7 linked regions of the Homo sapiens genome follow. The protein of the gene in region 6 purifies or fractionates together with the protein of the main gene of each other region. This does not show direct contact. Each region holds a gene or a part of one and is shown on either strand. Other genes may lie near its edges. The genes, in order: PHGDH, SFXN3, RANGAP1, ATAD3A, RCC2, ASXL1 and ALB.

Region 1 (3,500 bases), on a different chromosome or scaffold from region 6:
GGCGTGCTGATGACCTCTGCCCCTGTGTTTCTGCAGAAACAGCTTTAAATGGGACCCTTCTCCTCTTGCCCTAGAGCACTGAAAGAGAAACTAGTGTCTTAGTTCCAGAAGGTGGCAGGGAAGTGGGGAGGGCAAGGATTCTAGTCATTAGTCTGCTAGCAAAGGTTGTGCCTCTGTACAAGCACAGTAAAGTAGAGCTGACAAAAACCTGCCACAAACAGCATTAATAGAGGCAGAGGGGGCTGGGTGGGAGCAGGAAATGCAGATGAACTCACTGACCTTCCGATTCCTGAACCAGGTCACAGAGGTGCAAGCAACTGCGCATGGGGTGGGCTCGTGAAACATTTTGAGATTATGCAGGGACTCTCAATTTCAAAAACTGTGTAACACCCTGATGGCATTGGTGATATAGTGGTGAGCATAGCTGCCTTCCAAAAACCTTGAAACCACTATGCTGTGTGTGTTGACCATGCAGGCCCTAGACCAGGCATCCTCCTGGAAGCCCTTCCAATGGACTCAGCTTTCTCTCAAGTGAGTTTTTTCTCCCTAGGTGTGGTCAGTCTCCGCACTCACCCCCCTACCCCCAAACCGCCCGCAGCCTCCATGACTTACTTCATAACCAAGATGCCCTTCCTTGTTGCGGCCTCCAGATCCACATTGTCCACACCTGTGCCAGCCCTGCCCACCACCTGGAGTTTCTCAGCTGCGTTGATGACATCAGCGGTCACCTTGGTGGCAGAGCGAACAATAAGGCCTTCACAGTCCTGAAGCAGAAAAAACATTTGGGTCCAGAAAGTCATTCTGTGAGAACTCGTAAAGCCGCAGGCACATCATTGCTTACTCCTGAGTAAGAGATGCATTTCCGGAACCTTAGGAAGTCACTGATGACTGCCAGTTCATAGATATCTTTGGTATACTCACTAGGGAAATGTGGGCTAGGACTCATGCTGATTTTTACTTAGAGTGGAGGAGACTGTGCCTCTAACACACCAACCGCTTTGTTTGGCATGCTCAAGAAAGGGCAGCATTGGCCCATGGGCTCTGGGCACCTGGCTCATCTCTCTAGACAGCACCATGATGCCTGCAGCCTGGATGTCCATCAGACACATGCTGGAAGTCAGGGGCCATCTCCTGTTCCTCTCTGTATACCCTATCATTCCTGCACATTGCTTGCTCAAAATGGGAGTTCCTGCCTGCTGGCTGATTTTGATATATCCAAAGAAAGAAAGGCAATGTCATCTGTCCACACATCTGATAGGTTCTGCCATTGGTCAGGCCTGGGTTCAAATCCAAGGCCCCTGCCTTCCAAGCTATGAATCAGCTTCGGCCTTCTCAAGTGTGTGAGGAACAAGCGAGAGAGAACAGGCACAGCACCTAGCACAGTATCTGGCGACGCTTAATGAACATCACTACCTCCATTAGACACTGAGCTACTGAGGGCAGAGGTGGGATCAAATTCTACTTTGTAAGCCCCTGTCCCTGATACAGGGAAGGCACTCAATAAATGTTGGTTGGCCGAATGAGTAAATAATGAATGAAACGAATGTTGAAAGAAAAACATTTCCTAAAAGAGAGACCAAAGGAAGAGGGGCAGGGGAAAAATGAGAGCAATTAAATTCATCTAGACTTGCTCAGACACCCAGGCAATATTAGACTAAAAATATACATATGCAAAAAATAAGACACTGAATTCATCATAGCCACTATACGTGAGCTAAGTCAGATCCCCAAGACAATCTTCCTTATGCTCACCCAGAATCCTGTGGTATGTGGTTCTTTCCAGAATAAGAATATTCTTGCTCAAACACAGAATGAGAATCCCTAAGAAATGGGGCAGGTGAGCAAGTCCACACTCTGTCCCAAAGTGGCAGACACCAGGCCGGTAAGAAAGCAGCAAGTATGCTTTCAAAAGCACCAAGCTGGGAACCAGGAAGACAGAGTTCTAATCCTAGGTCTGCCAACAATGTGTGGGTCACTGCGGTAATTCACCTCACTCTATACCCCTAGTCTCTACCTGTAAAATAAAAGAGATGGAGCACATGGCTCCTCAGATCCATTTTCCCCGTAGAGCTCTCAGCTGGATCCCATGAAAACCTTCTTTTACCTTCATTCCCACTGCATGGATTCTGGAGATAGAGAAAGGTCATGAGAAGTTGGCTTCTAGGGTAAGGGCCCACACTGTGTTTGTTGTGCACGAGCCTAGAGCATAGGAGCAAATATGGACAAAGTAAATGTAAGGAGAGCAGTGGGTAATTTTATCTCCACTAAGAAGAGAAGAGGAATGATGCTTAGGCTGCAGCATAGAATATTTAAGCCTTAAGAGCTTCTAAACACTGGAAGAATTGTTCAAGAGCAATAGTAGAACGATTCCTCTGGAGGTGTTTATGCATCACACATCCTCACTGCTTGGGGGCTGTGCCTACCAGCAGAGAGAAACATGCAGGCGGCCTGGAAGACACTCCAAATCCTTTTATGTCTGAGGTTCTGAAGCAGAACGTCAGAGTGGGAGATTTGAAGAAATGTTCACCAGCATCTGGTCCAACTCCATTTTACAGAGGAAAAACTGAAGCCCAACAAAGTTAAGCCTGCCTACTTTCCCTTCCCCTCCCCTGTACTTTTCTTCCTTCATTTTATCGGATGCCCGCTATGTACGTATCTGGCATTATGCTAAACTGATTATGACCTGGGTGTATACAAGTCACATGGGCACCCAGGGCTTAGAGGAATCAAACAGAAGCCACCTCAGTGCTGACTGCCCCAGTGCTGAGGCCAACACCAGGTGAGCACCTGGAGGTATTCTGATTTCCCCCCATAGCAGCCTAGTTAAATATCAGCCAAGCCAGGCAGAAACAGGATACTGGCATCTTTTCCACATTCAAGTCCACCACACAGGCTCCAAAGAAAAGGATTTCCCTGCCTGGACACACTTTACTGACTTTTCAAGGTGCAATAAAGTTATCTTCCAGGAAACATTTGCCAACAACCCTGAACTGTCACTCTCCCTACACCCCACCATTTTTGTTGTGATCACCAATATAATATGTTTCATATCTAGTTGTCCTCTCTTAGACCTGCAGTTTTGGTCTCCTTAGTTATATTTTCTATGCCTAATGCAGGGATTTTATATTAAAACTTTATCTACTCTATACCATATATCCATAGTACCAGCCTCACCAGCACATAAACCATTTATTGAGCACCTGCTGGGTACTAGGCATTACACCAGTTGCTTTACATTATTCTCTTCACAACTCCAAGGAGAAGGGGTATAATCATCCCCAGTTTCCAGATAAAGAAACAGAGGCTTTGAGAGGTAACCTGCCCAAGGTCACTCTTACAGATCAAAAACCAGCCAAGAACTGGAAAGTCATTGCCACTGGCTAACTCTGAGACTGTAACTGAAGAAGAGTTGGTAGACCTGCCAAGATGTCAAGAAGATAGGGCCAGAGCCAAGGCCATGGCCAGTTAGGTGCAAAAACCAAACTGTAAAATCCCTTGGA
Region 2 (4,107 bases), on a different chromosome or scaffold from region 6:
TTGCCCCTGGGAACTGAATGTCTCCATATAAAACGCGATTGCACATTTGTTCAATTCTGAGATAGGAGAAAAACCGCCCTATGGTGGGAGGTGAGATATGTTTGCAGTAATGCTGCCTTGTTATTCTTTACTCCGCTGAGATGTTTGGGTGGAGAGAAACATAAATCTGGCTTACATGCACATCTAGGCATAGTACCTTCCCTTGAACCTAATTATGACATAGATTCTTTTGCTCACATGTTTTTTGCTGACCTTCTCCTTATTATCAACCTGCTCTACTACTACATTCCTTTTTGCTGAAATAATGAAAATAATAATCAATAAAAACTGAGGGAACTCAGAGACCGGTGCCGGTGCAGATCCTTGGTATGCTGAACGCCGGTCCCCTGGGCCCACTGTTGTTTCTCTATACTTTGTCTCTGTGTCTTATTTCTTTTCTCAGTCTCTTGTCCCACCCTACTAGAAATACCCACAGGTGTGGAGGGGCAGGCCACCCCTTCAACTAGGTAGGTAAGCAAGGGTGTGGGGAGGAGCTGTTTCCTGGGCAATGTCCCAGCCCAGGGACCTGCAGCCACTGGAGGAGGGGGAAGGGAAGACCAGAAACAGGAAAACAGATCTCCTTGTGCTCTATCCTGGTACAGATTTTCATGAGTGAGGATTTACATATATGTGGTTGACACATAAGCAGCAACAAACATCCCAGCCACGTGTGCTACAGATGCACAAGAATATATAATATATATATTACACACCCATGCTCAGGTGAGCTTTAGGCCCCAGCTGCACTGAGACCTGGATACAAACCCCCAAGGCTGTTTTGGAAAATGGCACAAGACATCCCACACTCCAGTCCCTGATTGGAGGAGAGCAAGGCCTTACTGGCCACCCAGGGCTTATCTGTTCCAGATCTCAATCAGGGGACTCTGATGTCAGCCATGTGTGTGCATGTGGGCACGCACAAGTCCTCTCTACAGACCCATTTTTCTCCAACTCACACTGAATGACCCCAGGCTCTCCCTGGTCCCTGGCCAGGCAGGGCTGGCACAGACACTCATCCACCTCTCTCTGGGCCACTTGCCTCCGGATAAGAGCAGGATTCAGTGGCTGCTCCCTCCACCCAGCACAGAGAGGAAAGCCTGGTGCAGCCATCTGGCTGAGTTGGGCAGAATCCTACAGAATGACTAATCCTCTCCAGCCACACTTCCTCCCGCAGAGGCAGAGACGCCCTCCCCTCACACTCACATACCCACACACAAAGACACTATCATGCACACCCTGCCCAGACATACAGACAGAGTGGAGGTGTCCTGTATACACCGGCCTTCAAACACCTTTACAGGCGCACACTGTGCCCATCTGCAGACACTTGAATGTGTGACTACACACAGCCCCACCCTGACATTCCTCCCCCCAACCTCCCTTGTGCCCTGTGGACTTGGACCTCCACAGAGCCGAGGACATTGACTGCACCAGGACAGACAGTTTCAAGGCAGGCCTCCTTCTCTGACCCCCATTCCAGAACCCCGCCCGCCGGGGAGAGCGAGCACTTACGCTTTCCATCGCTCTCTGAAGCTCTCAGAACCGCCTTCCTCTCTGCCTCCGCTGTCGCCGCCGGGCCCTCCCAGCCATCACGCGGGACGTCACGCGTGACGCCGACCAGCAGGGAGGGGCAGGAGCTTCCCGGCCGCGCCCACCCGGTGGGCACGGGGATTGGCAGAACCTGAGGGCGGTGGGTGTCATTCGAGGCGATGCCCCCAGCCTGGGCCACCTGGACCAGGCCCTAAGCTGCTTCCCAGAGCCAATCCCACCTCGGGGATCAGTTCTGGCCCCCTCCCCAGCCAAAGGGAGGAGGGGCTGGAGCCGCGGGCGCTGCTCCCTTGGTTTACAGTCCCCTGGCGGGCCTCAGCAGACCCCCAGCCCTGCAGCAAGCGGTCTAGGTGCCCAGAGAGAAAGCCCCGGGCGCAGGTGGGCGGTGTGGAGGGGCGGTCCTCTGCTGGCGCGCCGGGAGGGACTCGGGTTACCGCCTGGCTTGTTTACTTGATGGCTGCCTTGGCAATGGCCTTTGGCTTGCTTGTCCCCCTGGGCTCCTACCCCAGTATCCACAAGCTCCTCTTGTAGCAGCGCGGCATTCGCATCACTTCACAGCCCCGTTCCTGTCGTGCCTGTGCCTCTTCTATGTCCCCAGCCCTCTCCCTGCTCCCCCTCTGTAACCCCTAGCTCCACTGTGTCCCTGGTCTCCTTACGCTCCCAACCCCTAGCCCTGCACCCCAGACCGTAGCCCCACCCCTGAGATGTGGAGGGGCAGACGACCCCAGGAACCTCGCGGTCTGCATCCGAGCAAGTGCATCAGAAGGATTCTTAGGATTCTTCCGGTCCTGGGACCAGCTGCCCCACCCTGCGACCATTCCAGAACTGGGTAGCCAGAGACGCCTTCTGACAGAGGAGGAGGATGCAAGTGAAGAAGGCACCCCCTCCGCCACGCACATACTCACAACTCACCCAGCCACCACACAGAGCACGCCTGCAGCAAACTCAGGCTCACGTCCCGCTCTGCCCCGTGACGTCCCTCCACGGAGGCCTCAAGGGTGCCCAGGGAGGGGTGGCAATTCCAGGAGCCCCGGTAGCTGGCTCGGCTCAGAGAAGAGGTGGTTCGAGCCGGAGGGGAACAAGCCAGACCCAAGCCCTAAATTTGCGGAATGAGCTAGGGCGTCAGAACCAGAACTGGGGTGGGTAAAGAACTCCGCTGCCCGGGACCAGGTAACGCTCGGCTGTCCCTGGCGCCTAAGGGAGGTGCCGGAATAGAATGACTGGCGGCCCTACCAGCCAATGGGAGCCCGGGGCGGTGCAGGCCAGCCCAATTCCCGCAGCCTCCGCGCAGCGTGGGTGGGGTTTGCCGGCTGCGGCAGTAGCTCTCGCCTGCGGGTGGTTTGACAAGGCTGGCGGCGCCACACCAGCGACCAGGTGAGGCCGACCAGGCACAAAGGGGTGGGGGGCCTGGAGGGCCGAGTTGATGTTGGGGTGCTTCATTCTAGGTCCCAGAGCTTCTCTGAGGGAACTGGCCCTGGGTTTTGCGCGGGATGTCGTGGGACCCCTCTCCAGCAGATCCTCCCCAAAGCTTGGGAGAGGTTCATGCAGCCTCTTTAGACCCGGAGCCGCAGCCTGGAGCCCGCGGGTGTCTGGGGGTCTTCCTGGGCCTCAGCTGTCTAAGGTCCTGAAGCCCTATCCTCGAGGCCCAGCCCGCCCCACGCAGCCCCCGCCCCACCCCGGGCCACCTCCATGCCCGCATATGCATGAGAGAGGTGATGCCATGAGCTGTCCTGACCTCTCTTTTGTCTCACACCTCTCTAAGCCCCAGGGCCCGCAGTAATCCCAACTCCACTCTCAACCTCTACTGAGGACTGGGGACGGGAGTAGATGACTCAGCCCCGAGCAGGAATGAGGGGTGAAAGGTTCCCACCTGCCTTGTATAAAGTCAGCGAGAGTCCAAGATGGTGCCTGGACGGGGCAGTTCTCTGGCCTAGGGTGAGACAGGAGGGGGGCCTAAGGCATGGGAGGGCAGGATGCTTAAACCAGGGGGAGGGGTGGAAGTTTTAGGGGGCAGCAGGGGAAACATTTACACCCCTCCCTCATCCCTGCTCTCCCTGCCCAGGCCTGGAGCTCACACTTCTGAGAGGCATCGCAAGCGAGGGCCTTCACGTTACTGAGACCCCAGCCCCGCACAGAGGCTCATGGAGCTCGAAGCACGCAGGGCTGGCCTCTCCAGAGCTAGCAGATTCCTTCTGGACCTGTAGGGTGCCGCCCTAGCCCAGCCGCCATGGCGCAGGGTTTCGCAGTGGGCTTCGACCCACTGGGCCTAGGAGACCTGAGCTCCGGCTCTCTGAGCTCCCTCTCCTCCCGAGGCCACCTAGGCAGCGACTCAGGCTCCACCGCAACGCGATACCTGCTAAGGAAGCAACAACGGCTGCTGAACGGGCCCCCCCGCGGAATCCGAGCCTCATCGCCCATGGGACGCGTCATCCTCATCAACTCCCCCATCGAAGGTAGGGGCGGGACCCAGCCACTGGCCTGGGTTGGGGAGGGTGGGGGTAGGGGACAATGGGAACTCAG
Region 3 (3,500 bases), on a different chromosome or scaffold from region 6:
TAGGGGTGTCCTTGCCCCATAGGAAGGCTGGACCATTTCCCAGGGACAGTGGGACCTGTGAGGTTCAGCCCACCTCGGAGTCCCCAGTTCCTAGCCTCAGCTCAGGGCCTAGCACCGAGGAGACACGACTGAGTATCTGACACACGAATGAGGCCGACTTGGAGATGCGAGGGGCACAGGGAGCCCGATGCTGATGGCCCAACCGGACTTGGATCCAGGAGATGGCCACTCCCCGGCCACCCACCTTCACCTCCAGGTAGACTCCCCAGGCCCCATGGTCTCTTCCTTTCTAGAGTCAGCGTCTTAAGAACAATCCCGAGTGCAGCCCCTTCTGGCTGCCCCCACCTCCCACCCCCATCACTCCCCAGGCCCCACCACATCAGGATGAGATCTGGCCTCACCCCTTCAGAGGCCTCCCCAACTCCACCACTCTACAGGGTGGCCCCGCTCAGCCCGTACGAGCTCCTCTGTTGAACGGACAACTCATTCTGTCTCCACCCCACGAGACAGAAGCCCTGACTGTCCCATCCTTATAGCCCTGATGCCTAGTGTATGACCTAGTACGTAACAGGAGTGCACCCAACGTTTCTGAATAAATACAAGTAGAAACAAATAAAGGGGCCAGGTGTGGTGGTGGGTGCCTGTAATCCCAGCTACTTGGGAGGCTGAGGCAGGGGAATCACTTGAACCCAGGAGGTGGAAGCTGCAGTGAGCCGAGATCACGCCACTGTACTTTAGCCTGGGGAACAGAGCAAGACTCCATCTCAAGAACAAAAGAAAGAAAGAAAGGAATGGCCTGACCCCGACCTCTGGGGCCACCCCGAGTTCCCTACCTGAGGGACGCCAGCACCTTGGCCATGTTGAAGCCCTCCAGCACCTCCTGAAGCTGTTCACAGCCTTCTTCTCCCAGGGTGTTGCCTGCTCAAGGGGAGGGAAGAGCAGTCAGCCGGGGTGCCAGGGCCAGCCTAGCAGACCTGTGCAGAGGCCTCCCCCATCCGACTACCATTCAGGTCCAGCTTCTCCAGCTCAGCTTTGTCTGCCATGGCCTCAGCAACAGCCAGGGCAGCATCCCTCTTGATTTCACAGAATGACAAGTTCAGCTCCTGAAAATAAGAGGAAGGGTTGGAGGCAGGCAGAAACCCGGGCCAGGACACCAGGTTCTACTCTAAGCCTCAGTTTCCCCAAGTGAGGATATGGCAGGCTCTGTCCTCCAGGTGGGGCAAAGTGGGCAGGAAGAATAACACCAACAACAAAAATAATGCCCTGCAGCCAACGATGAGTCACGTACTGTGTTTACTTAAATCACAAGACAGTGATGTACACCACTCCCTGCCTCCCGCTTTAGAAATGAAGAAACCATGGCTCAGAGGGGTGTGGAGGCTCACACAGCATCACAGGGCCCGAAGTGGAGGAGCTGGGATATGGACACAGGCCCACCTGCCTTCAGACCAGACCCCTGTGCCCCCAGCCGCCCCACCACCCACAGACCCCAGAGGGAGGACGTCAGGCGTCCAGGCTGGCACCTTTAGCTTGGGCAGGCCGCCGCGGATGGCATCTGCAATGGCAACTGCACCCTTGGAGCGCACCAGGCAGTCCCCAAAATTAATCACCTCCACCTGCCGCAAGGTCTTCAAGGTCTGTGAGGGGGAAGCAAGGGTCCAGAGTGAGGGTGCAGACCACACCCCAGCCCTCAGCAAGCCCCGGGGGCCCCACACGGTCACATCCCAAGCCAGCCACCACACACTGTCCTCCTCTGCAAGTCACCAGCTTTGCCGTCTTCTACTTGTTGGCCTCTGGGCCCCTGGCCAAACCTCCTCCACCCCTCCCCATGTTACGGCCAGAACTCTTCCTGAGACCAACCAAGCAAGGTTCCTGCTGAGCATCCGGGTCTTCCACACGTAAGCTGATCCCTCTGCCTGAAACACCCATCCCCCACCCTCTGTCCAGAGAAAGACCACTTGCCCTATACAACTTAGCCAAAATGTGATCTCTTCCAGGAAGCCTGCCCTAAGTCTGATTTGAACTTCCTTCTGGCGTGTTCCCCAACACCTGCACACATCTCTGCTAACACACAGGCAGCCGGACTAGCCTTCTGTGGGGCCACGGGACCCTGGCAGCCAAGAAGCCACTGCGTTCAGAGCCCAGCACTGTTACCACTGGCAGCTTCCTTCCCTCCTTGAGCTAGGGTCTCCCTGAAGGCGGGGTCTTTGGCTCAACCCCATGTGGCCTGCACTTGGTACAAAGCCAAGCACTAAATGGGGACTCAAAAAACAGCTGCTGGGCCAGGCACAGTGGCCTGCACCTGTAATCCCAGCTACTCAGAAGGCTGAGGTGGGAGGATCACTTGATCCCAGAAGTTCAAGACCAGCTTGGGCAACAGTAAGATTCCGTCTCAAAAAGTGATAATAAATAACAAAACAAACAACAGCTGCTGAACAAATCAACCAGGAAAACAGATGTGGGGAGCAGTCTGCTCCTGTGCAGCCTGAGAACAAACCAGCGGCAGCCGCTGGGGGCTGCAGAGGCGGCTCAGGAGAAGGTGGCATGAAGAATCAGAGCTGCCCGAGGAGGGCGTGGGTTACCTTGGGACCTGCAACCCTGTTCAGGACATGTTCAAAGAGCTGGAGCCATGGGGCACACACCCAGGGGGCAGGCAGGGGGTAGAGGAGTCCCTGCTAAACGGAGCCCCAGCTTCCCTGGAAAGACAGCAGCCAGCCTCTATCTGGCGGGGCCCAACTGGCTCTGCCACACTCGCCTCACCTCGGCCATGGCCACGGCGCCCTTCTCAGTGAAGGTGTTGTCATTCAGGTTGATGACCCGCAGCAGGGGGTTGACAGCGAAAGCCTGGGCCAGGGCAGTGATGCCAGGGTGGTTGATCCCATTCTGTGGCATGTGGACCTCCTCCAGGGTCCCGATGACCTGTGAAGAGGAGGCAGAGAGTGGAGGGGGCCCCGAGTGCCAGGTGACATCCAGCAGGCAGGAGAGCAATTCCACACAGCAGGCACAGGAATGGGCTGCCGCCAGCACAGGGCAGGGGCCTGTCTGTGGGATTTTGGGGCATGGCTGCATCTAACTCTTTCCACAACCTCCTGAGGGAGGCCTACTGCCTGGGATAGGATCCCCACCAGAGAAAAGACTAGGGATCAAAGAGGCGAAGTGACTTGCCCAGGGTCACAGAGCTCTAGATCCAGCAGGTCGATTTCTTGTTCTCAGTCTGGTGTCCTCAGCACAGTGGGGACCCTGGCTGTGGTGGGCAGGCACTCATGCCCCTTCTCTGGATGACATAGCTCCATGTGACCTTTCTTTCTTAGGGGCCCTCCTAGCCCACCCACCTACACAACATAACCCCTTCGACATGGCGTCCTTCTCTAGGGATGAGGAGGGTGTTCCCTGGCCCATGCAGCCCTATCACAGCCTGGCCTTTTGATACCCATTCTCTCTGCCTCCTTATTTTCTTTTTCTTTTTTCTTTTTTTTTCCTTTTTTGAGACGGAGTCTCGT
Region 4 (3,500 bases), on a different chromosome or scaffold from region 6:
AGGCTGAGGCAGGAGAATCTCTTGAACCCGGAAGGCAAAGGTTGCAATGAGCTGGACCCGCGCCACTACACTCCAGCCTATGCAACAAGAGCAAAACTCTGTCTCAAAAAACAAACAAACAAAAAATGAATTAGGCCAGGCCCGGTGGCTCACCCGTGTAATCCCAGCACTTTGGGAGGCCAAGACGGCTGGATCACTTAAGGTCAGAAGTTCGTGACCAGCCTGGCCAACATGGTGAAAACCCATCTCTACTAAAAATACAAAAATTGGCCGGGCCTGGTGGCACAGGCCTATATTAGCTGAGTGTGGTGACGTGAGCCTGTAATCCCAGTCACTTGGGAGGCTGAGGCAGGAGAACTGCTTGAACTGGGGAGGTGGAGGTTGCAGTGAGCCGAGATGGCACCATTGCACTCCAGTCTGACCACAGAGCAAGACCCTGTCTCTAAAAACAAACAAACAAAAGTCATCGGCGCATTAAGCAGCTCCGTCATGTCCTCACGTGACACGGTCTCACCAACATGGTGGCAACACCACCTGCAACATTCACCGTCACACTGACCAGGCCACCGGCAGGCGCTGCAGTCACAGCTCTGGGCGCCGGCACCACGGCAGAGCAAGTGCCCACTCAGTGCCGGGCACCTACCGTGTGCTGGGCGGGGTGGGGACGGAGGACACAGCCATGTGGGACGTGGGGCGCCACCACAGCAGGCCGGAGGCTGGGCACAAAAGAGTGAGGCTTTAAACGAGAGAAGAATCTGTGAACTTCAAACTCTCAGGGTTTTATAAGGAATAAAGAAGGTTTTTGCAAAATGGAGTCAGGGTTGCCTTCTGGTTTTTTTTTTTTTTTTTTTTTTTTTTTTTTTGAGAAGAAGCCTCACTATGTGGCCCAGGCTGGAGTGCAGTAGCGTGATCTCGACTCACTGCAAGCTCCGCCTCCCGGGTTCAGGTGATTCTCCTGCCTCAGCCTCTTGAGTAGCTGGGACTATAGGCGCCCGCCACTGCGCCCGGCTAATTTTTTGTATTTTTTTAGTAGAGACGGGGTTTCACCGTGTTAGCCAGGATGGTCTCGATCCCGATATCGTGATCCGCCCGCCTCTGCCTCTGCCTCCCAAAGTGCTGGGATTACAGGTGTGAGCCACGACTATCGACAATTTTTTTCTTGAGACAAGGACTTTGTCGCCCAGGATGGAGTGCAGTGCTGCGATCTCAGCTCAGTGCAGCTGCAACCTCCCTGGGCTTAAGTGATCCTCCTACCTCAGCCTCTTGAGTAGTGGGACCACAGGGGCTGCCACCACACCCAGCTAATATTTGATTTTTTGTAGAGATGGGGTCTCACTGTGTGGCCCAGGCTGGCAACTGCGTTTTCTTCTCCCAGCTTGAGAAGGGAGGAGAAGCCGAGGCCAGCAGGTACAACGTGGGCTTCCTCCCTGCTGGGAGAGCTACAGGGCTGTGCAGAGCCGGCAGGGACAGGACCTGGGGCTCCAGGAGGCCCCCACATGCTGCCCCTCAGCCACCTGCCAGCCCTGTTTTATGAGTATGTTTACCGTGGCTGTCACTTTGTCCCAGTCTGTCACAAAGGCACGGAATCCTTCCCCAAACAAGGTGCCAGCCGTCCTGCGGGGAAAGCAGTGGTGTGACCAGGAAGGACACGAAGATCCGTGCCACGCAGCGAGAGCAGGTTGAGGGTGAGGCCCTGACATGGCGGCACGGCCTTGCCAGGACAGAGGGGCAGTGCCCCCACCAAGGAGTCAGCCTACGGCGGCAAGGCCTGGAAGAGCTGGAGAGCGCCCTGGGACCAGCGACTCACACCTGCGGGGCTCCATCTGTGGCCGGCCCGGGCCTCGGCAGTGCTCACCTGATGGACTCCAAGACGGTCTGACGGTGCTCGGCCGCCTTCAGGCGGATCTGCTCGCGGATGATGTCTGCATTCTCCCGCTCGGCCTTGGCGCGCGCCCGGGCCTCGGCCTCCACTCGCAGCATCTCATTCTTGTGCCGCAGCTCCATCTCCCGCTCCACGGTGGCTGCCCCAGAGAGGCAGGGCAGCTCAGCACCATGCAGTGCAGCGCGTCCACCTCCACCCACACTGTGGACCGGCCCACGCCACGGACCGGCCCACGCCACGGACAGACCAACGCCACAGACAGGCCCATGCCACGGACCGGCCCACGCCATGGACAGGCCCACACTGCTGACAGGCTAAGGCCACGGACAGGCCCACGCCACAGACAGGCCCACGCCGCCAATAGGCTAAGGCCACGGACAGGTCCATGCCACAGACACACACAGACCTTGGTAGGGACAGCGCCACAGGCCGGCCCTGCCCATGGATTAGGGCAGAAATCCGACCCAGAGGCCTAGGCAACTTCTCAGGACGAGCTCTTTGAAGCAAAAAACCAGAACGCGGAGTTCTGAAGGAAGCCCCCCTCACACAGAAACACAGCTGTCAGAACTCAGACACGCGTGACGTGCCACGTGCCTGGCTACTGAACATTAAACGCACACACCTCGCCACAAGCCCACCCACGGTGAAGAGTGGTGACAGACGTTTGCCTGGAGCACTCGCCAACAAATGCCACATGGCACCAAATACCTGTGATCCCCACTGAAACCAGGACAGTAAAGACCCATGTTCTAGGCAGAACGCAGAGGCTCACGCCTGTAATCCCAGCACTGTGGAAGGCCAAGGCAGGCGGATAATGAGATCAAGAAGTTCAAGACCAGCCTGGCCAACACAGTGAAACCCTTTCTCTACTGAAGATACAAAAAAATTAGCTGGGCGTGGTGGCGGGAGCCTATAATCCCAGCTACTCGGGAGGCTGAGGCAGGAGAATTGCTTAAACCTGGGAGGCAGAGGTTGCAGTGAGCTGAGATCGTGCTATTGCACTCCTGCCTGGGTGACAGAGCGAGACTCCGTCTCAAAAAAAAAAAAAAGGCCCCTGTACTTCCCATGAAGTGAAGCAGCTCCTGCCCTCCCTGAACAGATCCTGGCGTCCACTCGCAGACAGAGGTGTCTTCCGAGAGGCAGCCCCACCCCGCGGAGCCCCAGCAGGCCTCGCCCACTGCACTGGTAGCTATGAGGGGCCGGGCGGCAGAACTCAGGCTCAGAGTGCACGCCGGGTCCACAAGCAGCCCCCGCCACCTCCGCCCCAGCCAGGAGAGCAGACAGCCTACCTCGCCGCATGGCTTCCTGCTTCTGCACGGACTCCTCCTGCTTCCGTAAATTCTCCTCATTGAGAAGTTGCTGAGAAGAAGCCGCAGAAAAAGAGAAAAGCCTTTAAAACCTGTGACTGTGCCCATGTGTGCGGGGGATGACTGTGCCCGAGTGTGCAGGGGGGTGAGTGTGCCCGTTTGCGGGGTGTGACGGTGCCCGTTTGCGGGGGGTGACGGTGCCCGAATGTGCAGGCGGGTGACTGTGCCCATGTGTGTGGGGGTGATTGTGCCCATGTGTGGGTGGGTTGTGCACCCGTTTGGGTGTGTGTGTGTGTGTGTGTGTGTACCCG
Region 5 (3,500 bases), on a different chromosome or scaffold from region 6:
TTTTGCCATCAGAGCAAAAGATCCTTACCCCATGCTGAGATTGACCCAAGGAGGTAGAGACAGGGAGTGTGTGAGGGACACTGGCTCTCCCTGGCCCACCTCTGTCTCCAGCTGTGCTGCTTGAAGCTGCTTTGTCAATGGAAATGGCACATTTGTTAGTCTTTTTTTTTTGAGGCAGAGTCTCCCTCTATGGCCAGGCTGGAGTGCAGTGGCACGATCTCAGCTCACTGCAACCTCCGCCTCTCAGGTTCAAGTGATTTTTGTGTGCTGATCAGCCTCTCGAGCAGCTGGGATTACAAGTGTGTTCCACCACACCCGAATAATTTTTGTACTTTTTGTAGAGGCTGGGTTTTACCATGTTGGCCAGGCTGGTCTCAAACTGCTGGCCTCAAGTGATCTGCCTGCCTCAGCCTCCTTCCAAAGTGCTGGGATGACAGGCGCGAGCCCTGTGTTGGGTTGCATGTTTGTAAGTCTTAATGTGAGTAAACAGCAGTCCATTGCAGCTTTTAAGTTCCTGTTTATACACATAAATACGTTATTATTTTACATATGTGTATAAGCAGGACTCTAAAAGCTACATCTTCCTTTCTCTATCCACTTAAAACCAACAGGGGCCCATGATGCCCATCCTTTGGGCTGTCGGTGCTGTTCTAGAATCAGAGCACCTGGGAGGCTGAGGGTTCAGCATATGATGCCCCTTTATGCCTCATGGAAAGTGCACACCCTACATTTAAGTTTTGCTTTTTTTTTTTTTTTTTTGAGCTGGAGTTTAGCTGTTGTTGCCCAGGTTGGAGTGCAATGTTGCGATCTCAGCTCACTGCAATCTCCGCCTCCCGGGTTCAAGCAATTCTTCTGCCTCAGCCTCCCGAGTAGCTGGGATTATAGACGCCCACCACCACACCTGGCTAATTTTTTGTATTTTTAGTAGAGACGGGGTTTCACCACGTTGGCCAGGCTGGTCTCGAACTCCTGATCTCAGGTGGTCCACCCACCTTGGCCTCCCAAAGTGCCCCACGTTTAAGTTTTGTTAGCATCTACTGAGTTTGGTCCATGTTCGGGGCTGGGTCCATGCAGCCCCATTGCCTTTCCATAGGCCTAGGGCAGCCCTCTGCCCCTTGTCCTGGGTTGGCCTCCTGCCCAGTCTCCCTGGCCCCAGGTTTCTGGTCTCTGTTTCTCTGTTGAGCAGTCCTAGGGACCCTGTGTGCTGCCACAGGCAGACAGCAGTCCTTGTTGCAGAAAGAACCTTTTTTACTGAGCATTTTGCATGCCTTGCCCCGCTCAGGGTTGCTAGGAGGAGGTCTGTGTGAAAGCAGCCGCCCAGGAAATGTCCAAAACCATATTGCCTTCAGTGACCCCAAAGCTGCAGGTGTCGGGCTTGTAGAAGATGAGCCAAATACTTACATTGTTGAGGGGCAGAATTGCCTTGAGTAAAAGATGTGCATTTTATAGAACATTCTTATGGCAGATGAGCGTTGTCATTGCCTAGGTGTTAAGAAAAAATTCAAATTCTTTTTTCCTCCGCTCTCACGGCCACACTCAACAACCAACACCAGACTTCTTCCGCACCCCCCACCCCAGATGGAGTCTTGCTCTGTCTCCCAGGCTGGAGTGCAGTGGTGTGATCTCAGCTCACTGCAGCCTCCACCTCCTGGGTTCAAGCAACTCTCCTGCCTCAGCCTCCTGAGTAGCTGAGATGACAGGCACCTGTCACTGTGCTCGGTAATTTTTGTATTTTCAGTAGAGATGGGGTTTCACCATGTTGGCCAGGCTGTCTTGAACTCCTGACCTCGTGATTTGCCCGCCTCCCAAAGTGCTGCGATTACAGGCGTGAGCCACCACGCCCCGCCTCCCAACACAAGACTTCTGTGACTAGACGTAAAGGGAGGTCTCCCCCTGCTATCAAGCAAGCAATCAGTTCTGCAGCACACACCGGCTGGGTGTCCTCCAGTTCATCTCTTGACACTATCCACCTGGAGGTAGATTTCCTCATCTTGAGGGCTCAGTCCCCAAGACTGTCCTTCCACCCCAGACACCAGTTGCAAGTCCAGTCCCTGGTAGCTTCTGACCAACTAGCCTCTAGTTGGGGTTCTCATGACCCCCTCTTTGGGGTCGATTAATTTATTGGAATGGCTCACAGAACTCAGGGAAACACCAGTTTATTATAAAGGATATTACAAAGGCTATGGATAAAGAGACCTGTAAGGCTAGATGTGGCAGAAGGGGCACTGTGTTTCCGTGCCCTCTGCAGACCACCCACCTGGTACATGTTCAGCTCTCCACAAGCTCTGTGACCTGGTCCTTACAGGTTTTTAACGGAGGCTTCATTATGTAGGCATGGTAGATTAAGCCATTGATCATCACTTTAACCTTCAGTCATCTCCCTCCTGAGGTTGGAGGATGGGGCTGAAAGTCCCTAGGCTCCCACTGCCCCATCCGGAAGCTGCCTGGGGGCTGCCAGTGTCAGTCATTAGCATACAAAAAGACATTGCTTTGGAGATTCCAAGGATTTGGGAAGTTGCATGCCAGGAACTCCAAATATTGATGGCAGTGTCACACTAGGGTAGATTCAGTCCTAATTCTTTGCGCACTTCATAACCTCCTAAAGCAAGTAAAGGCAGCAGCCTTGGCCAGATCCTACAAAACAGGTGAGTGTTGCAAGCTGCCCAGGTCTTTGTAGTTTTTCCAGTCTTGGGTTGCCAAGGTTTTGTGGACCCTGAGACAGATGTGTTGAATCTGAAAGGAGCAAATAAATAAAACTGAAAGCCAACCCGGAAGTCTGTTTCAGTTGATGGCCCTTAGGTAATTGGTCGATGCCGGCATTGTTCCCGGGGGTCTTACCTCCCCGGAGCAGCGGTCTTCTACATGGACCTATGTTAAAAGGTTGACTCTGGGCCCCGTAAACGCGCACCTTGCATTTGGATCATAATTCAAAAATTGCTTTAGACTAGAAATCCCATTTTGTTGATTGAAGAAGCTCAGTGCCTTTTCTGTCCATTTCTGTGTGTCTCTGCCCAGGTTATGTGACCAAGTTGCTGGAGGCAGCCAGGTGAAATGACATGAAAATCACTCATCTCATTGGGCAGACTGTTTGCCAGGCTGTCTGCTGCGTGGCCTTTATACACAAGCAGGGTCGCAGACACTGAGTTCGTCCAAAAAAACAATCCGTAGGCCCATCAGGGAAGGCTGGATTCCGCCTGGGAGGGCACACTGAGCTTCAGACACCCACACACCCACTGGCACCCCCGCCCTGCCCCGCCGCCCCGGGTGGAGCCCGCAAGCGCGGGAGTCTCTCCCACGATTGGCTGTTTCTGGTCTCTGAGGAAGAGGAGCACCCCTTAAGTGAGAAGGGGTGCTGGGAGTTCTCTGTTACTCTATTTAAATGTTAATTCCACATAAGGCAGAGGAAAGAAGTTATAGAGAAATAAAAGAAAGCAGCTTAGAGCAAACAATTATGTAAATAATAACGAAATACACTAACCTCCATCTAATGTGTGAGGAAA
Region 6 (4,185 bases):
GTGATTATTCCACCTCAGACTCCCAAAGTCTCGCAAATCCTTTTTCACATGTATAACAGCACCACAAAGTAATTCCTACTCATAGGCTGGGCGCGGTGGCTCACGCCTGTAATCCCAGCACTTTGGGAGGCCAAGGTGGGCGGATAACCTAAGGTCACGAGTTCGAGACCAGCCTGACCAGCATGGAAAAACCCCATCTTTACTAAAAATAAAAAATTAGCCGGGTGTGGTGGCAAACAAACGAAAAACAAACAAACAAAGTAATTCCTATTCATATTACTATTTTTAATGAAGAGCCTTAGAAGAAAAAGAGGAATAACTTACCCTGATAACCTGGCTTGAAGTTGAGTCAATGATAAAACAGAAATAGCAACCTCGATGTTGAAGTTCAGACCACGGTAAATTCGAGAATCTAAAGAGACTTAACAGTGGACCCCAAATTCCTAAAGTCAACTAGTAAGAGCCAACAGAACTTTGAGACAAACAGATTTCATAATTCTGTCAAGACATAAATAACACAAGACTTAAAAGTACTTTCACCTACCTCTAACAAGTAAAACTCTGGCAAGCAAATTTCCTTGGGTGCCCAGGGTCATAAACACCCGCATAACAGGAACGCCAAGGAGAATGTCAATGAACACACAAAACTCATTGTCGAGGAGGAGAACGAGAGCTCTCTCCCACTCCCCATCAGGCCTATATTTGTTTCCAGGTGCAGAACCGTTAGAGAAATCCTGAAATTTCTACAAGATCCTGAAAACTAGCCCAAGCTTCCAATTTTGACTCAATCAGAAAAAAAATATTTCGGAACCTCAAAATCTTCAAACTTCACATGCCAGGCCAAAATAAACTGAAGCACAAAACTTCAGCATACAAACAATTGCTATTTTTGTTCCCTGGGCAACAAATGACTAGGGAAGAGGATAGCAAGCACCAATGAAAATTCTGTAGCCCAAATTCCTTCAGTTTTTATAAATCTGTAACTTTTACAGACTTCGAGAAAGAAAAAGGTGTACTTCAGGTTTGTGTCAACCCCCCCAATACAGTCTATTTTTTTTTTTTTTGCACAACACCTTTGAAGCAGAAAACTCACTTCAAAATAAGAGAGAAAATTAAGTCTGAGCTTCACTCATCATTAAAACTGAATTACAACCATTACATATAAACTACAGTGTCAAGAGACACTTATGCTATCCGCACCACAACCTCGCTGTGTGACAGATCTTAGGAACTGACATCTTAGTATAACCTGTTACTACTGGTATCAGCAGATAATTACCCGAATATGTCTCAAAGTGTCTGAGCTTTGTGGGAGTAATCCAAAAGGAAGCTATTTCACCTGCAAGTCCTCTGACGCTCTGAACACAAAATTCACAACCCCCATCGGTTGAACGAGACGGCTTCAAACACTCAAGTTACGCTCTCCCTTGCTAAATCCTCAGTGAACAACGTCTCCCAACAGAGATACTTTGTCTTTGTCCAACATACATTCTTTGCAAAGTGGATTCAGTTCTCCTCAAAATACCAATTTCCAGTCCAGCTTCTGAAGGCAAACAGCCCAGTCTGCGTTTCTCAAAGTGGGGTCCGTGAGCCACTGCGTTTGAATCACCTGGGAAGCTGGTGAAAGCGCAGATTCCCAGGCTCTATCCCAGACCCTGAGGCTCAGCAGGTCTTACGAAGGGCCCTAGGAGTAGCGTTCCTAACCGCCTCCCAGGTGTCGCCCACAGGACACTAAAGTTAGAGAACCGCTGCTCAGGGTTCAAGCTGGGAGTAAGCACTTGCTTCCCTCCACGCACCTGGTTTAGATTGGGAAAGCTCAACATGCCATTGGCGTCCTTGAATGTGGGGTCGCTTTTCCACCCCCGGAGTCAAAGGCACCACCCCATTACCCACCAGGAAGCGAGGGAGGAGCTTCCGACCCTTCCCGGAAACCCAACTCCCCCGGGTGAATGAACGAAGCTGCCCCAGACCCCCAGACGCTGCCAAATAGTGGGGGAGGGGACGCGGGACCCCGCTGCCCAGAGTGGGAGGAGCCGGCCTGCCAGCTCGCCCCTCCGCCGGAATTTAGCTGCGCGGGGCGGGGGGGGCGCGAGGGCGAGCGGAAAAAGGCGCCACATCCCATCCCGGCGGAGCGCTCCCCACCCCTCGCCTTGCGGGGCTGTCCCGTTCTTAAAGGAAGATGGCCCCGCCCCCTCCCGCGGTGGGCAGGGCCTTGCCCCTCCCCCCCCAGTGGGGGGGTGCGCGGCGAGCCCCCCCCACCCCGGGCCCCACGGAGCCCCCCTCGGCTGTCCGCCTCACCAGGCGCGCGGCCTCGGCCCACGTGCGCTCCTTCTTCTTCTTCTGTTTGTCCTTCATCCTTCTCCCCGGCGGCGGCGGCAGCTCCACGCGGGACCTCCGGGCTGGGCGGGCTGGGGCGGTGGCGCGGGGCTGGGGCGGCGGCGGCGGTGGGGGGGGCGCGTGGCAGCGGCGGCGCGCGAGGTCTCGGGTGCGGCCGGGGAGAAGGGGCGGGCACGCGGGGACCGGCTGGCGCGAGAGCGGCGGTGGGGGAGGGGCGGCGGCGGCTCCACGCGCCCGCGCTGCGTCAGTCGCCCACGGCGGCAGCGGCGGCTGCCCCGCGATCGCTAAGGAATGCGGCGGCTCCGCATAACCACGGGGTCAGAGGTCACGGCTCCGGCCTCCGCTTTCCCGCTCTGCTGAGGGACTGAGACAGGACCGACGGCGGGGCGGGAGGGCGAGACGCGGCTTTCCCTTCGGCGCCCGGGTGCGTGCGTGTCTGCCGTGGGTGTGTGTGAGTGTGTGTGAAGAGTGAGGAGGGGGAGTGTGGGGTTTTTTTTTTTTGAACAAAAACAAACCGAAAGGGCGCCTGGGAGTCGTAGTCCCAACGGCCTCTCTGGCCTCCCCCGCTCCGGAAGAATATGGCCGCGTGAAGCGCGTGGACCACACTTCCCGGCGTGCCCGGCGGCCCCCTTCCGCTCTCCCTCTCGCGTCCTCCGCCTAGCACCGACCTCAGCTAGGAACGGGGACGGGTCGCTGTTCGGGGAAGGGGCTGGGTGGAGTCTCGCGAGGTGCGAGAACTGGCTGGGGGCCTGCGGGATTCTGGGAGGCGATGCTGGGAAGGGGCGGTGGCTGGGCTCCCCCGGCCACCCTTAACCCCTTCGGTGCTTTTTGCTTCAGGACCTCCTGGCGGGTGCGGGTGGGGAGTGAGGATGGGGAGCTCGACTCGCAGTTCCCACTTCGTGCTTCTCCTCGCCTAAACGGTTCTTACCTACACTTCTCGTAGGGGACGAGAGGCAGGACTTTCCCTTTTGGTCACCTCTAAATGACTCACTGCCACATAATAATGAGACAAAAAGACCCTCATACCAGTAAAACGGTTATTCCACGGCTGATGGACTTAGACGGTTCTTCATTTCTTCCTGTGCTTTCAGGCCGCTGTGTATTTGCAGAGCCTGCACCAGCAGCCTAGAGCGTTCTTAGGAACTTGGTGATATGTTGACGGGTCGTGTAAAGAACTTGGACTCTGGGGCCATACTGACCAGAATGCACCTGAGGGCGTTTTTAGAGGCAGTACCCTGGAGAGAATTCAGGCCCTGGAGTCCAGCGGACCTAGACTGGAATCTTGGCTGAGTCACTCCCTGGCTGTCCACTCAACCTCTCTGAGCCTCAGTTTTCTGATCTGCATTTGTCTTGTATTTCATGGCATTATTGGAATTAAAATTAACATACAATTCTTGACAGATTGGAAGAGGATGTGAAGGGAGATCTTGACATTATCAGGTCCGTATGATATGGCGCCTGGCATAGAGCAAATGTTTAATAAATGGTAGCTGTTATTACCAGCTGAGAAACAATAGGCAATATACTTAGCCTCTCTGAGCCTTAGTTTTAGAACCTGAAATGAAATTCAGAGCGCCCAGCACATAGGTTTTCTGTAACTATAGGTTCAGTCGTTGTCCAGAAACATTTCTAGAGTCCGTCCGGAGTTGGATTGATGCCAGCTCTTAAAAACTATGAAGGCAGGATCAGTGGCCACATTTAAACGGTTTCCCTGGGTGAGGAAACACACTCTCCACTCCCTAATGTTAACACGTAGCGAGAGCCAGTATTGATAGGAGACCATTATGGTGTAGCCCAAACTCTAACGCCAAGGGGTTCAGTGTTTTCTGCTTCTAATACTGGTCACAG
Region 7 (3,500 bases), on a different chromosome or scaffold from region 6:
ATGTGTGTGTGCATGCACGTGTGTGTATGTGTGATATTGGCAGTCAAGGCCCCGAGGATGATAATTTTTTTTTTTTTTTTGAGACGGAGTCTCGCTTTGTTGTCCAGGCTGGAGTGCAGTGGTGCCATCTCGGCTCACTGCAACCTCCGCCTCCCAGGTTCAAGCCATTCTCCTGCCTCAGCCTCCCAAGTAGCTGGGACTACAGGTGCATGCCACCATGCCTGGCTAATTTTTTGTATTTTTAGTAGAAAATTTTCAGCTTCACCTCTTTTGAATTTCTGCTCTCCTGCCTGTTCTTTAGCTATCCGTGGTCCTGAACCAGTTATGTGTGTTGCATGAGAAAACGCCAGTAAGTGACAGAGTCACCAAATGCTGCACAGAATCCTTGGTGAACAGGCGACCATGCTTTTCAGCTCTGGAAGTCGATGAAACATACGTTCCCAAAGAGTTTAATGCTGAAACATTCACCTTCCATGCAGATATATGCACACTTTCTGAGAAGGAGAGACAAATCAAGAAACAAACGTGAGGAGTATTTCATTACTGCATGTGTTTGTAGTCTTGATAGCAAGAACTGTCAATTCAAGCTAGCAACTTTTTCCTGAAGTAGTGATTATATTTCTTAGAGGAAAGTATTGGAGTGTTGCCCTTATTATGCTGATAAGAGTACCCAGAATAAAATGAATAACTTTTTAAAGACAAAATCCTCTGTTATAATATTGCTAAAATTATTCAGAGTAATATTGTGGATTAAAGCCACAATAGAATAACATGTTAGGCCATATTCAGTAGAAAAAGATGAACAATTAACTGATAAATTTGTGCACATGGCAAATTAGTTAATGGGAACCATAGGAGAATTTATTTCTAGATGTAAATAATTATTTTAAGTTTGCCCTATGGTGGCCCCACACATGAGACAAACCCCCAAGATGTGACTTTTGAGAATGAGACTTGGATAAAAAACATGTAGAAATGCAAGCCCTGAAGCTCAACTCCCTATTGCTATCACAGGGGTTATAATTGCATAAAATTTAGCTATAGAAAGTTGCTGTCATCTCTTGTGGGCTGTAATCATCGTCTAGGCTTAAGAGTAATATTGCAAAACCTGTCATGCCCACACAAATCTCTCCCTGGCATTGTTGTCTTTGCAGATGTCAGTGAAAGAGAACCAGCAGCTCCCATGAGTTTGGATAGCCTTATTTTCTATAGCCTCCCCACTATTAGCTTTGAAGGGAGCAAAGTTTAAGAACCAAATATAAAGTTTCTCATCTTTATAGATGAGAAAAATTTTAAATAAAGTCCAAGATAATTAAATTTTTAAGGATCATTTTTAGCTCTTTAATAGCAATAAAACTCAATATGACATAATATGGCACTTCCAAAATCTGAATAATATATAATTGCAATGACATACTTCTTTTCAGAGATTTACTGAAAAGAAATTTGTTGACACTACATAACGTGATGAGTGGTTTATACTGATTGTTTCAGTTGGTCTTCCCACCAACTCCATGAAAGTGGATTTTATTATCCTCATCATGCAGATGAGAATATTGAGACTTATAGCGGTATGCCTGAGCCCCAAAGTACTCAGAGTTGCCTGGCTCCAAGATTTATAATCTTAAATGATGGGACTACCATCCTTACTCTCTCCATTTTTCTATACGTGAGTAATGTTTTTTCTGTTTTTTTTTTTTCTTTTTCCATTCAAACTCAGTGCACTTGTTGAGCTCGTGAAACACAAGCCCAAGGCAACAAAAGAGCAACTGAAAGCTGTTATGGATGATTTCGCAGCTTTTGTAGAGAAGTGCTGCAAGGCTGACGATAAGGAGACCTGCTTTGCCGAGGAGGTACTACAGTTCTCTTCATTTTAATATGTCCAGTATTCATTTTTGCATGTTTGGTTAGGCTAGGGCTTAGGGATTTATATATCAAAGGAGGCTTTGTACATGTGGGACAGGGATCTTATTTTACAAACAATTGTCTTACAAAATGAATAAAACAGCACTTTGTTTTTATCTCCTGCTCTATTGTGCCATACTGTTAAATGTTTATAATGCCTGTTCTGTTTCCAAATTTGTGATGCTTATGAATATTAATAGGAATATTTGTAAGGCCTGAAATATTTTGATCATGAAATCAAAACATTAATTTATTTAAACATTTACTTGAAATGTGGTGGTTTGTGATTTAGTTGATTTTATAGGCTAGTGGGAGAATTTACATTCAAATGTCTAAATCACTTAAAATTGCCCTTTATGGCCTGACAGTAACTTTTTTTTATTCATTTGGGGACAACTATGTCCGTGAGCTTCCGTCCAGAGATTATAGTAGTAAATTGTAATTAAAGGATATGATGCACGTGAAATCACTTTGCAATCATCAATAGCTTCATAAATGTTAATTTTGTATCCTAATAGTAATGCTAATATTTTCCTAACATCTGTCATGTCTTTGTGTTCAGGGTAAAAAACTTGTTGCTGCAAGTCAAGCTGCCTTAGGCTTATAACATCACATTTAAAAGCATCTCAGGTAACTATATTTTGAATTTTTTAAAAAAGTAACTATAATAGTTATTATTAAAATAGCAAAGATTGACCATTTCCAAGAGCCATATAGACCAGCACCGACCACTATTCTAAACTATTTATGTATGTAAATATTAGCTTTTAAAATTCTCAAAATAGTTGCTGAGTTGGGAACCACTATTATTTCTATTTTGTAGATGAGAAAATGAAGATAAACATCAAAGCATAGATTAAGTAATTTTCCAAAGGGTCAAAATTCAAAATTGAAACCAAAGTTTCAGTGTTGCCCATTGTCCTGTTCTGACTTATATGATGCGGTACACAGAGCCATCCAAGTAAGTGATGGCTCAGCAGTGGAATACTCTGGGAATTAGGCTGAACCACATGAAAGAGTGCTTTATAGGGCAAAAACAGTTGAATATCAGTGATTTCACATGGTTCAACCTAATAGTTCAACTCATCCTTTCCATTGGAGAATATGATGGATCTACCTTCTGTGAACTTTATAGTGAAGAATCTGCTATTACATTTCCAATTTGTCAACATGCTGAGCTTTAATAGGACTTATCTTCTTATGACAACATTTATTGGTGTGTCCCCTTGCCTAGCCCAACAGAAGAATTCAGCAGCCGTAAGTCTAGGACAGGCTTAAATTGTTTTCACTGGTGTAAATTGCAGAAAGATGATCTAAGTAATTTGGCATTTATTTTAATAGGTTTGAAAAACACATGCCATTTTACAAATAAGACTTATATTTGTCCTTTTGTTTTTCAGCCTACCATGAGAATAAGAGAAAGAAAATGAAGATCAAAAGCTTATTCATCTGTTTTTCTTTTTCGTTGGTGTAAAGCCAACACCCTGTCTAAAAAACATAAATTTCTTTAATCATTTTGCCTCTTTTCTCTGTGCTTCAATTAATAAAAAATGGAAAGAATCTAATAGAGTGGTACAGCACTGTTATTTTTCAAA

What was found.
Region 1: the proteins of ASXL1 (region 6) and PHGDH purify together in Homo sapiens (affinity purification with mass spectrometry, with the first as the bait; 2 studies listed by BioGRID). This does not show direct contact.
Region 2: the proteins of ASXL1 (region 6) and SFXN3 purify together in Homo sapiens (affinity purification with mass spectrometry, with the first as the bait; one large-scale study listed by BioGRID). This does not show direct contact.
Region 3: the proteins of ASXL1 (region 6) and RANGAP1 purify together in Homo sapiens (affinity purification with mass spectrometry, with the first as the bait; one study listed by BioGRID). This does not show direct contact.
Region 4: the proteins of ASXL1 (region 6) and ATAD3A purify together in Homo sapiens (affinity purification with mass spectrometry, with the first as the bait; 2 studies listed by BioGRID). This does not show direct contact.
Region 5: the proteins of ASXL1 (region 6) and RCC2 purify together in Homo sapiens (affinity purification with mass spectrometry, with the first as the bait; one study listed by BioGRID). This does not show direct contact.
Region 7: the proteins of ASXL1 (region 6) and ALB purify together in Homo sapiens (affinity purification with mass spectrometry, with the first as the bait; one study listed by BioGRID). This does not show direct contact.

Annotation. Positions count from the first base shown.
Region 1 is NC_000001.11:119,718,434-119,721,933, reverse strand, and holds part of PHGDH (D-3-phosphoglycerate dehydrogenase), read right to left. Parts: intron 2,057-3,500; exon of another isoform or gene 2,042-2,056; coding exon of another isoform or gene 2,015-2,041; intron 765-2,014; coding exon 613-764; intron 1-612. UniProt on the Homo sapiens protein: Catalyzes the reversible oxidation of 3-phospho-D-glycerate to 3-phosphonooxypyruvate, the first step of the phosphorylated L-serine biosynthesis pathway.
Region 2 is NC_000010.11:101,029,927-101,034,033, reverse strand, and holds the start of SFXN3 (sideroflexin-3), read right to left. Parts: upstream 2,801-4,107; 5' UTR 2,500-2,800; exon of another isoform or gene 2,092-2,499; intron 1,721-2,091; 5' UTR 1,561-1,720; coding exon of another isoform or gene 1,552-1,560; intron 1-1,551. Other genes in the region: PDZD7 (PDZ domain-containing protein 7), read left to right, coding at 3,815-4,040. UniProt on the Homo sapiens protein: Mitochondrial serine transporter that mediates transport of serine into mitochondria, an important step of the one-carbon metabolism pathway.
Region 3 is NC_000022.11:41,255,188-41,258,687, forward strand, and holds part of RANGAP1 (ran GTPase-activating protein 1), read right to left. Parts: intron 2,920-3,500; coding exon 2,761-2,919; intron 1,638-2,760; coding exon 1,524-1,637; intron 1,104-1,523; coding exon 1,004-1,103; intron 919-1,003; coding exon 834-918; intron 1-833. UniProt on the Homo sapiens protein: GTPase activator for RAN. Converts cytoplasmic GTP-bound RAN to GDP-bound RAN, which is essential for RAN-mediated nuclear import and export. Mediates dissociation of cargo from nuclear export complexes containing XPO1, RAN and RANBP2 after nuclear export.
Region 4 is NC_000001.11:1,518,662-1,522,161, reverse strand, and holds part of ATAD3A (ATPase family AAA domain-containing protein 3A), read right to left. Parts: intron 3,242-3,500; coding exon 3,172-3,241; intron 2,022-3,171; coding exon 1,856-2,021; intron 1,615-1,855; coding exon 1,545-1,614; intron 1-1,544. UniProt on the Homo sapiens protein: Essential for mitochondrial network organization, mitochondrial metabolism and cell growth at organism and cellular level. May play an important role in mitochondrial protein synthesis. May also participate in mitochondrial DNA replication.
Region 5 is NC_000001.11:17,433,178-17,436,677, reverse strand, and holds part of RCC2 (protein RCC2), read left to right. Parts: intron 1-3,500. UniProt on the Homo sapiens protein: Multifunctional protein that may affect its functions by regulating the activity of small GTPases, such as RAC1 and RALA. Required for normal progress through the cell cycle, both during interphase and during mitosis.
Region 6 is NC_000020.11:32,356,946-32,361,130, reverse strand, and holds the start of ASXL1 (polycomb group protein ASXL1), read right to left. Parts: upstream 2,801-4,185; 5' UTR 2,356-2,800; coding exon 2,299-2,355; intron 2,146-2,298; exon of another isoform or gene 2,118-2,145; coding exon of another isoform or gene 1,894-2,117; exon of another isoform or gene 1,824-1,893; coding exon of another isoform or gene 1,797-1,823; exon of another isoform or gene 1,280-1,796; intron 422-1,279; coding exon of another isoform or gene 325-421; intron 1-324.
Region 7 is NC_000004.12:73,417,787-73,421,286, forward strand, and holds part of ALB (albumin preproprotein), read left to right. Parts: intron 1-301; coding exon 302-525; intron 526-1,720; coding exon 1,721-1,853; intron 1,854-2,467; coding exon 2,468-2,512; 3' UTR 2,513-2,535; intron 2,536-3,305; 3' UTR 3,306-3,500. UniProt on the Homo sapiens protein: Binds water, Ca(2+), Na(+), K(+), fatty acids, hormones, bilirubin and drugs. Its main function is the regulation of the colloidal osmotic pressure of blood. Major zinc transporter in plasma, typically binds about 80% of all plasma zinc.